Linked DNA regions of Homo sapiens: region 2 is linked to region 1. Evidence: fine-mapped expression QTL. A gene starts in region 1. The other region holds a variant in brackets. All regions are shown on one strand. Distances are between the middles of the regions.

Region 1 (5,385 bases):
CTTTCAGTCGAGAAGGGGAAGGAGATGTGGATCTATGTCGTCTTGGAGATCTAATATTTATAAGCAAAGATGTTAGAAACAGACAGACATATCAACTTTGTATCAATCAGCACAGATATACATGAGGTGAGCTCCACAGAACCACGAGTCATTCCGTATAGCAAAGTGAGGAAAAAGGTTCTGCCAAGGCCTTGATTGTTAACAAAAAAATTTTTTAATGTAGTTTACTGCTTAATCATCAGTTGCATTCAGTACAACTAGGGCTAGAAAGCTTTCTGGAAGGCAGAAAAATGTAAATTAAAAGTTTCTAACAACCACACACAAATATACAAAAAAGCTGACTTAAACAGCAATTGATGGTTATTAAGACTCAGAGCCAGGTGGGGCTTGGTGGCTCACGCTACTAATTCCAGCACTTTGGAAAGCAGAGGCAGGAGGATTGCTTGAGCCTAGGAATTCAAGACCAGCCTGGGCAACACAGGGAGACCCTCTCTCTCAAAAAAAAAAAAAACAAACCAAAAAAAAGACTCAGAGCCCATTTCTAATGTTCTTCCAAGATCATCCATTCTTGATTACATACTTGAATAAATCATTATCACCAAAAAGTTAATAAAAAAGAAACAACAGGCCGGGTGCAGTGGCTCACGCCTGTAATCCCAGCACTTTGGGAGGCCGAGGTGGGTGGATCACGAGGTCAGGAGATCAAGACCATCCTGGCTAACACGTTGAAACCCCGTCTCTACTAAAAATACAAAAAAAATTAGCTGGGTGTGGTGGCATGTGCCTGTAGTCCCAGCTACTTGGGAGGCTCAGCAGCAGAATTGCTTGAACCAGGGGAGGCAGAGATTGCAGGGGAGGCGGAGGTTGCAGTGAGCAGATTGCGCCGCTGCACTCCAGCCTGGGTGACAGAGCGAGACTCCGTCTCAAAAAAGAGGAAAAGAAAGGAAAAGGAAAAGAAAAGGAAAGGAAAGGAACGGAAGAAAGAAACAAAAATATAAAATACTTATTTCTTTTTCTTGCCAAGCACCATGCTCTGGGGTTTGCATGCATTATTTCTTACTTACTCTTTCAAGACAACTTTGTGATGTAGAGTACTATTAGCACCATTTAACCAAGGTGAATGTTAGCTTTAGAATAAGGTTGGATTAAGTTTCCTCCATTTCAGGAAACCGTAAATCCCCTTATAAGCGATGAAAACAAAGTTAAGAGCTGCGACCAGTTTCTTAGGGACTTTCGGTAAATAAAACTCTTGGCTTATTTTCTGCCCTTACCGGGAGCGTCTTCGGTGCGGGGATCGCGAGCGGCTCCTTCTCCGATCTCTCTCCCGAGACCTGGACCTTTCTCGGCGCCTGCGTTCTCTCTCCCGGGATGTGGACCGGGAACGCCTACGTTCTAATGCAAACGCACACAAATTGCAGAACTGATAATTACCTCAAATATCTAGAGCTGCGCCGTCCAGTAGAAAAATAATGCAAACCATTACTAGTCACATTAAAAAGGTAAAAAGAGGCTGGGAGCGGTGGCTCACGCCTGTAATCCCAGCACTTTGTGAGGCTGGCGGGCGGATCACAAGGTCAGGAGTTCGAGACCAGCCTGGCCAACGCGGCGAAACCCCGTCTCTAATAAAAATACAAAAATTAGCCAGGCGTGGTGGCACGGACGGGTAATCCCAGCTACTCGGAAGGCTGAGGCATGAGAATCGCTTGAACCCAGGAGGTGGAGGTTGCAGTGAGCTGAGATCGGCCACTGCACTCCAGCCTGGGCGGGCGACAGAGCGAGACTCTGTCTCATTAAAAATAAATAAATTGATTTAAAAAAAAAACGAATCAGGGGCAGAACCGAGGGTCTAAGTTAGATCTCCTAATGGAAGTCCAGGGTTCTTTACGTCGCGCTGCCTCATTTATGGGGCTGGTAGCCAGAAAACATTACGAAGTGAGCTCCCAGGACTCAAAATTCTTAATATCGATTTCCCTGTAATGACCTGGGCAGGAATCTAACATTTATTAAGTATTTAAGAACCAGGCAGAATCACATACTGTATGTTATGGGATGTGACATTAATTCTCACATCAGTTTTTAAAAGTTGGCAATACTACCCTCAATGACTCATTCTGGGAATTCGATTCAGAAAGGCTGAGTAGTGACTTGCCCACCGTCGCCCAGAAATTCAGCAAAGGAACTGAGGTCTAATTCTAAACCCACCGGCCACAGTGTAATAAAAGTTATTGTATGAAGGTGACAAAGACTTAATGAAACTAATTCAGAGACAAACAACTGCCTTCAAACCGGAGAGGGCGGGCTGAAGAGGGCAGGGCCCAGGTCTACGTTCCTTTATCCACCCCTCGCTCTCCGCCTGGGAAAAGGGCCCGCCTCTCTGCTACGCGGCTACCAAAAACAAAACAAAATAAAACAAAAGGGACAGGCCTCCAACAGAGCCCCATATCCTCCGAATTGCTACAGGACTCACCCCTCCGTGGAGAGCGGCTGCGACTGCGACCCATTTGGAGTCCCGCTTCCCGGAAACAACTGTGCAACAACTTCCGGGAGGGCCGGGAACCGAGCTTTTACCGCCGACCAGAAAACGTCAAAACGAGTTGCGAGGGTTCCGGTCTTCTTTGTTCACGGTGGGCATTAAAACATGCGATTTGGTGTTATTATAGAAATTCCTGGAAAATTCAGCCGTATACCCATTATCCTAACACAGCTTTCATTTTTCCCCCATTTTTGTCCACATGCACAAAATAGAGCAAACCAATTGTAAACATAGCATAGACAAACAGCTTATGTTCTTCCACTTTTCCACATAACATTCATAAGGAGTGAATATACCAAAGTTCACTGTCCATCTGCTTTATATTTTCTCATGCCAGCATTGAGAAGGCACCCAAAACCTCCTATGGGCTCTTGGAAGGAAAACTAAAGGCCCCAGATTCCATCCTACCCGACAAAGTACTTCCCCAAAGTTGCCTCTGTCCTCAGGGAAAACAACAACAACAACAACAAAAACTTTAGAATGTTCAAAACTACAAAAATTAGGAGAAAGACTGTCTTGCCCCAAGGCTGAACCGTCTGTGGTAGAGCATAAATATGCTTACCAGGAAAGACTCAAACCTCTATTTCTTATTTTATTTTATTTTGTTCCAGGGTACATTTGCAGGATGTGCAGTTTTGTTACATAGGTAAATGTGTGCCATGGTGGTTCGCTACACCTATCAACCCATTAAGCCTTGCATCTATTAAGCTATTCTTCCCAATGCTCTCCCTCTCCCCAGCTCCTCCCCCTACAGGCCCCAGTGTGTGTTGTTCCTCTCCCTGTGCCCATGTGTTCTCATTGTTCAGCTCCTACTTATAAGTGAGAACATGCAATGTTTGGTTTTCTGTTTCTGTGTTAGTTTGCTGAAGATAATGGCTTCTAGTTCCATCCATGTCCCTGCAAAGGACATTATCTCGTTCCTTTTTATGGCTGTGTAGTATTCCATGGTGTATACGTACCACATTTTTTTAATCCAGTCTATCATTGATGGGCATTTGGGTTGATTCTATGTCTTCGCTATTGTGAATAGTACTGCAGTGAACATATGCGTGCAAGTATCTTCGTAATAAAATTATTTATATTCCTTTGGGTATATACCCAGTAATGGGATTGCTGGGTCAAATGGTATTTCTGGTTTTAGGTCTTTGAGGAAACACCACATTGTCTTCCACAATGGTTGAGCTAATTTACATTCCCACCAACAGTGTAAAAGTGTTGAACCTCTGTTTCTAATCAAACCAACTCTTTTCAGTCAGCTCTCTCTAGAATTATCAAGTCTAGTGACCTGGCTTTTAAAATACAAAGAGCTGGGGGATGGAAAGGGACTTTATTAGGTTGGAAAAAATGCCCACCAATCACATAAATTTTTAATTAGATTTATACATTCAGAGTGGCCTGTTTAATACCTGTCCCAACCCAAACTTCCAGGAAAGATCCAGCCATGACATCTAGGATTTCTACCAACAGCCCCAACCCCCAGATGCCTTTGGAATTACCCTGGCAAAGCATGCACTAGGTGTAGAATGGGGAGGTTCAAGGGAGGTGCAGACCCCAGGGAAGAAGATTTAGGGACATCATTGGAGAAACACACCACTAATGATAGCCAGGCGTGGTGACGCATGCTTGTAATCCCAGCTACTTGGGAGGCTGAGGCAGGAGAATTGCTTGAACCTGGGAGGTTGAGGTTGCAGTGAGCTGAGACTGCGCCACTGCACTCCAGCCTGGGCGACAGAGTGGGACTCCGTCTCAAACAAAAAAAAAAAAAAAGAAAGAAGAAGCACACCACTAATGATTGAAGAAATTATCCACAGGAAAGACAGGATTTATGGGAAGCCTAAGGGGGTATGTACTAGATGTGTAAGAGAGGAAGAACATGGTGGCCTCAGGTGGTGGCTGAAAATACTCTTTCTTTCTCTTTCTCTTTCTCCTTCTCCCCTCAGGGCTGGGGTCTCATCTGATGAAAATGCTTTTTAAGAAACCCCTCACCCGGCGCGGTGGCTCACGCCTGTAATCCCAGCACTTTGGGAGGCCGAGGCGGGCGGATCACGAGGTCAGGAGATCGAGACTACAGTGAAACACCGTCTCTACTAAAAATACAAAAAATTAGCCGGAGGTGGTGGCGGGTGCTTGTAGTCCCAGCTACTCGGGAGGCTGAGACAGGAAAATAGTGTGAACCTGGGAGGTGGAGCTTGCAGTGAGCCGAGATCGCGCCACTGCACTCCAGCTGGGCGGTAGAGTGAGACTCCGTCTCAAAAAAAAAAAAAAAAAAAAAAAAAAAAAGAAACCCCTCTAGGACTAAAAATGATTGGAAGGTATGCTGGGGATCAGTTGAATACACAAAGATTTTTTGAATGCATGCGATGCACAGGACACTATACCCCTTTGGCACTAGATTGAAAAGATGAGTAAGACATGGTCCCTGCCTCAAGGAGCTTGCACTCTAGCTGTGGAGGCAGACAGAGGAAGACACCTCTTCACTGTAATGTGGTAATATAAAATATGCACAGTGTGCTAAGGTGACATGAAAGAAGGCTATTCAGCCTAATTTGTCCAAGAGGGTTTCCTGGAATAATAATAATAGCTAATACATACTGTGCTAACTAAATGCCAGGCACTGTTATAAAAATGTTTATGTACACACACATTCACACACAATTAGTTGAGCTGTGAGACTGAAAAGAATACATTGTCCAAGCGAAGAGTAGGAGTAGCAGCAATAGCAAAGGCACAGAGATGTGTCACATTATGACATACACAAGCACTGAAAGAGGTTTGATATTATCATCACTTTGAGTTCACCATGGCAGACCTTACCAAGTACCTGGGACTTTATCCTTACAGTTATGGCTGGC
Region 2 (5,385 bases), 44 kb after region 1:
TGGTGGCTCATGCCTGTAATCCTAGCACATTGGGAGGCCGAGGCAGGCAGATCACTCGAGGACAGAAGTTCAAGACCAGCCTGGCCAACATGGCAAACTCCATCTGTACTAAAAATACAAAATATTAGCTGGGTGTGGTGGCATGCACCTGTAGTCCCAGCTACTCGGGAGGCTGAGGCAGGAGAATTGCTTGAATCTGGGAGGTGGAGGTTGCACTGAGCCAAGATCGCACCACTGCACTTCCAGCCTGGGTGACAGAGCAAGACTCTGTCTCAAAAAAAAAAAGACAGACAGACATATGCCAAAATATAACGAGTGAGGGATCACAGGTGATTTTTCTATCCTATTTCCTAAGTATGCATCTTATTTATAATTTTAAAACTATTGAAAATGACTCTGTAAAATCTTCATAGAAAAACAAGAGCATCAGACATACATTTTGGTTTGTGCAATCAATGTCTCCTTGAAAAGTTATCTTGAACTGTATACTTTCACACCTCAGGGGCTGGGAGGGAGAGCCTCAAGTGGGAATCCAGAAGTGGACCACAGCTTGCTTCTCTAGTTTCTGCCACTTAGGCTACAGGGCAATTTCTCTTTTGATTGATTGCTGTGGTGGATCTATCTGGAGCACAAATGATCATAAGGTTCTATCAACATTTGCCTAATATCTACTGTTTCTACTGAGTCTCTTTGTCTTTTTAACTTCTTCACCATCCTTGTCTCTTTCAGCTTTTCTCTCTCTTCTATTTAAATGCTTTCCCCTACTTTTCTCCTCTATAATTTCCCTAGTCCTTCTTTAATTGCCATAACGTAACACAAAAGTATAATTTAAGATACAAGTTTAGTATTTTTGTTCTTCAAGGAAATCAAGTTATATTTCACTGATATGGTTCTTTACACATTTTTACTTCAGGAACTTTATAGAAAATTAATTTATCTGGCTCTGAGGTAGGTAATTTGACTACATAAAATAATTCTATAAAATGTATTTAACTAAGATATAAAGAGCATGAAATTTTAAAACTAAGAATATCTATTCATCAAAAGACATTTTTTTTCCTTTTGAGACAGGGTCTCACTCTGCTGTCCAGGCTGGAGTGCAGTGGTGTGTGGCCATGGCTCACTGCAGCCCTGACACCCCCAGGGTCAGGTGATCCTCCCCCCAGTAGCTGGGAATACAGACAAGTACATGCCACCACGCCCTGCTAATTCTTTTTTTTTGAGACAGAGTTTTGCTCGTTGCCCAGGCTGGAGTGCAATGGCGCAATCTCGGCCCCCTGCAACTTCCGCCTTCTGGTTTCCAGCGATTCTCCTCCTTCAGCCTCCCTAGCAGCTGGGATTATAGGCGACCACCACCATACCCGGCTAATTTTTGTATTTTTAGTAGAGACAGGGTTTCACCATGTTGGCCACGCTGGTCTCCAACTCCTGACCTTGTGATCTGCCCACCTCAGCCTCCCAAAGCGCTGGGAGTACAGGCGTCAGCCTCCCAAAGTGCTGGGAGTACAGGCATCAGCCTCCGTGCCAGGCTGCCCTGCTAATTCTTTAAACTTTTTGTAGGGACAGGGTCTTGATATGTTGCCCAGGCTGTCCTTGAACTCCTGGTCTCAAGTGAGCCTCCTGCCTTGACCTCCCAAAGTGCTGGGATTACAGGCATGAGCCACGGCACCCAACCAAAAAGACATCTTTAATAAATTAAAAAGATAACCTACAAACTGGAAGTGCAGAACATATGTATGACAAAGGATTAGTTATCAGGAATACATAAAGAATGCCTACAAATCAATAAGAAAAGACAAATCTGACATTAAAATAGGAAACATACCTGAACAGATATCTCACAGAAGAGGAAACATATGGCTAATAACCATATTAAGAGTCATTCAATCTCTTTAGTTATAAAGGACATTAAAATTAAGGCCACAATGTGACATAGTTCCATAACAACTAAAACAAAATGATATATTATACAGTGGCGTGTTGCTGCTAGCTCATAGGAGCTGTGTGCATCTCCTTTCTCATTCAGTGATGTCATGTTGGTAGCTTGCAATCAATCAGCCATGATGGGAAAATTTGTACCATGGGAATTAAGAAATGGTACTAATCAAGGATTATTTTTTCAGAGTCAGCTTATTAGCACACCACTATGTAATATATGTTAAGACGTATATACATGGTGCAATAATATATATTTATAAAGCAAAAGAATAAACATGAAGTTCAAGATAGTGGTTAGGAAAAGTCAGAGGGACACAATAGAAAAGAAGCACATGAGTTAAGACTGAAGTTACTGATGTTCTAGTACTCAAAGATTAGGTCACAAAGGCTCAACGTATTAAAAATAAACCAAAAAGGTGGCCATAAACTAAGAAAATCACGAACTAAGGATTTATCCAGTTCTTTGCACCTGACAGCCGTAAAAAATACTTTTTCTAGATATGTTTTAGCAAAGTAAAAAATAACATACATACATTTTAACTTAGTATACACATGTATTTTTTTTATATTGCATGCCCTCCTTTGCACAG[A/G]TAAGACCTTATAGCAGTTGATCTTAACCAATTTTAGATCAGTCTCCACTAAGAATCTGACGGAAGGTATGGAAGCTCTCCTCTCACAAATGTATGCAGCAGCACACACACATATCAAATTCTGTACCCACTTTTGGGAGTCAGTGACACATGAAAGCCTATCTATGGCCCCTATGTTAAGAATGGTTGCCTGACGGGGTATAGCTTGTTAGAGAAAACTCAGTGTGGTCAAGACAAATGCAATCAACAAGATCTGTTAGTGATAAAATGGGAAAAACAATAGTTTTTGGCGATCAAGAGTATGATGACAGTTCAAGGAGTAACAATTCAGATAATGATAGTTAAGGTATTTTTCTTATCTAGCCTTGATTTTCTCACTGTAAATGAGGGGTGAAGTAGATAATTGCTAAGGTCTTCTCCAAGCTCTAAAATTAAGTCTATAAACAAGTCAGGGCCTGATTTCATTTAATTAATTAATTTATTTATTTTCTGTTCTCATGGGGCCTGATTTTAACAAATTTCCTTTTAAAAGACAAGTTCTCAAAAACTTCAGGCCTACCTTTCCTCTGTTTAGAAAACCAGACATCTGTTTCTGTCAAAAGCTGTTTTAAAGATCCATTCCAAGAAGGCACAAGTTGAAGGAACATCCACTAAGTTAAAAAAAATTAAATAAGAAAACAATTATGAAATTTCATCATTTTATGATTTTACATTTTCAAATTGCTTTCACCTTAAAATATAATAGCTAAAAAATTTAACTTCTACTTTACCAGCAATTGCAAGAAAGAAAGTACAACTATAAGCACTCAATTTATCATGGCATTATCATAGTCCAATGGCTGGGTGCTGTGGCTCACACCTATAATCCCAGCACTTGGGAGGCCAAGGTGGGCAGATCACTTGAGAGAGGTTTAGACCAGCCTGGGAAACATGGTCAAACCCCATCTCTACACACAGAAAAAAAACTAGCTGGGCATAGTGGTATGCATCTGGAGTCCCAGCTACTCAAGAGGCTGAGGTGAGAGAACCTTTTGAGCCCTAGAGGTCGAGGTGCAGTGAGCCATGATCGCACCACTATGTTCTAGTCTAGGTGACAGAGCGAGACCTTGTCTCCAGGAAAAAAGAAAAAAAAATCATAGTCCAGTGATAAAAATTGGATGTGTGTGCTAAGGAGTAAGCCAATCCTTCAGAAGTATTTATGGTAACACACTGGAGATTACTGTATTAAAAAGGTAAAGGTTTAATATATATGTATATTAATTAGAAATTTTATACTAATTTATTCTACTAACAACTCAATTTCACTAAATACTATATGAGATTATAAAAGCAAGAAATGAACATGGGAAAAAGGAGCTTCTTTGTCTTACTGCTGCTGAGATAATACGCAGAGTAGGTAAGAGCAAAAACTTTTAAATCCTGAACCTGGCACTTAAGAGCCGGGCACATTACCTAGTATCTCTGGGCCTTAATTTCTTCATTTGTAAAATGAGCATGATAATATGTTTACCTCATAGGACATTAAAATATTTAATATACATAAATACTTAGAATGGTGCACGGCACGTAAACATCCTGTAAGTATTAGTACTTACCATTACTGGCAAAAAGCAGTTTTAATAACAGAAATGAATGCCACTGTGACAACTCACTGCAGGCTCCACCTCCTAGGCTCAGGTGATCCTCCCACCTCAGCCTGCTGAGTAGCTGGGACTACAGGCACGAACCACCACACCCAGCTAATCTTTTGTATTTTTTGTAGAGAGGGGTTTTTGCCATGTTACCCAAGCTGATCTTGAACTCCAGGCCTCAAGCGATCCGCCAGCCTGGGCCTCCCAAATTGCTGGGATTACAGGCGTAAGCCACTGTGCCTGACCTCTGCACCAATTTTTTAAAAGATTGGATAGCCCAGATAGTAAAGTTCCTTGAAGAAAAACAGTAACAAAATTTCACCTCTACCATAGAAACAAACAAACAAAGAGTCCCTATGAGATAAGCTAGAAAGTGTCTCAGTCTGAAGTTTCACAACTGTGTTAAATACTCACAACACTGTTTTGCGGACAAAAGGGTAAAGGCAGGATTATGCAGTAGGAAGAGGGCAATGGACTAGGACTCCCAAGACCCAGTCTCTGCCTCAAACCTGCTCTGAGTCTCACTATCTACATGGAAGAATAATGGCTGATCTGTGTCTTCAAAGAGTTGTGAAAATAAAATTAGATTTTTTAAATGTTGAAACTTTTCAAAAGCATGAAGTAAAACATATGCCAGACACACAAACAGGCCTTTAAAAGAAAAATTTCAACATTTCTTAGAAAAAGCGTGTGTAAAAATGCCATCATTAACTGAAGCTCAACTTTGAAAACGTTCCTAAAAACAATATAAAACATTTTTGATTATGTAAATAAACAAATAGCAATAACATATTTTTTGTTAAAGAAAAGTCTGGGAAAAAACAGAAAAGTATTCCTAAAATAGAAAAGTACAAAAAATAAAGTTAAAATCACTAATGATTCCAAATCCCTAAATATAAAGACTTTTTAAGGTTTCGGCCTATTTCCTTTTCCTACATTTATAACCATCCCTTTATTACTGGATACTGTTTCCAGTTTTTCACCATTATACGCATTGCTGAGGTGACATCCTTGTATAATATGACATCATATTACGTCAGTACCTTTTTTAGAGCAGTGTATATATCCATCTCCACTTGCATCACAAATAAGTTAGATGAACCAATGAGCTGTTTCATGACATTTATACTGAAAAGGATAAATAGAGGGAGTGAGCTTATCTTTAGGCACAGGCTAAAGGATCCTGGTAGAAATAAAAGCTTTAAGTCTTTCTTGTAAAAAAATAT

The links. PIP is the estimated chance that this variant, and not a neighbour inherited with it, causes the effect.
Region 2: its variant is the best candidate, but not a certain one, in a credible set for the expression of SNRNP27 in whole blood (INTERVAL, PIP 0.69).

Annotation. Positions count from the first base shown.
Region 1 is chr2:69,891,101-69,896,485 of GRCh38, reverse strand. It overlaps SNRNP27 (small nuclear ribonucleoprotein U4/U6.U5 subunit 27), which reads right to left and starts at 2,530. Exons shown (of 6, transcript NM_006857.3): 1 at 2,468-2,530; 2 at 1,272-1,392; 3 at 1-50. The coding sequence starts at 2,501. RefSeq lists enhancers at 1,035-1,969, 2,168-2,227, 1,970-2,905.
Region 2 is chr2:69,847,445-69,852,829 of GRCh38, reverse strand. It overlaps GMCL1 (germ cell-less 1, spermatogenesis associated), which reads right to left. Exons shown (of 14, transcript NM_178439.5): 7 at 5,203-5,287; 8 at 3,088-3,178. Among named protein-coding and RNA genes, the nearest start is that of GMCL1, 20 kb to the right of the region's middle. The variant A/G (reference allele first, on the strand shown) is at 2,529.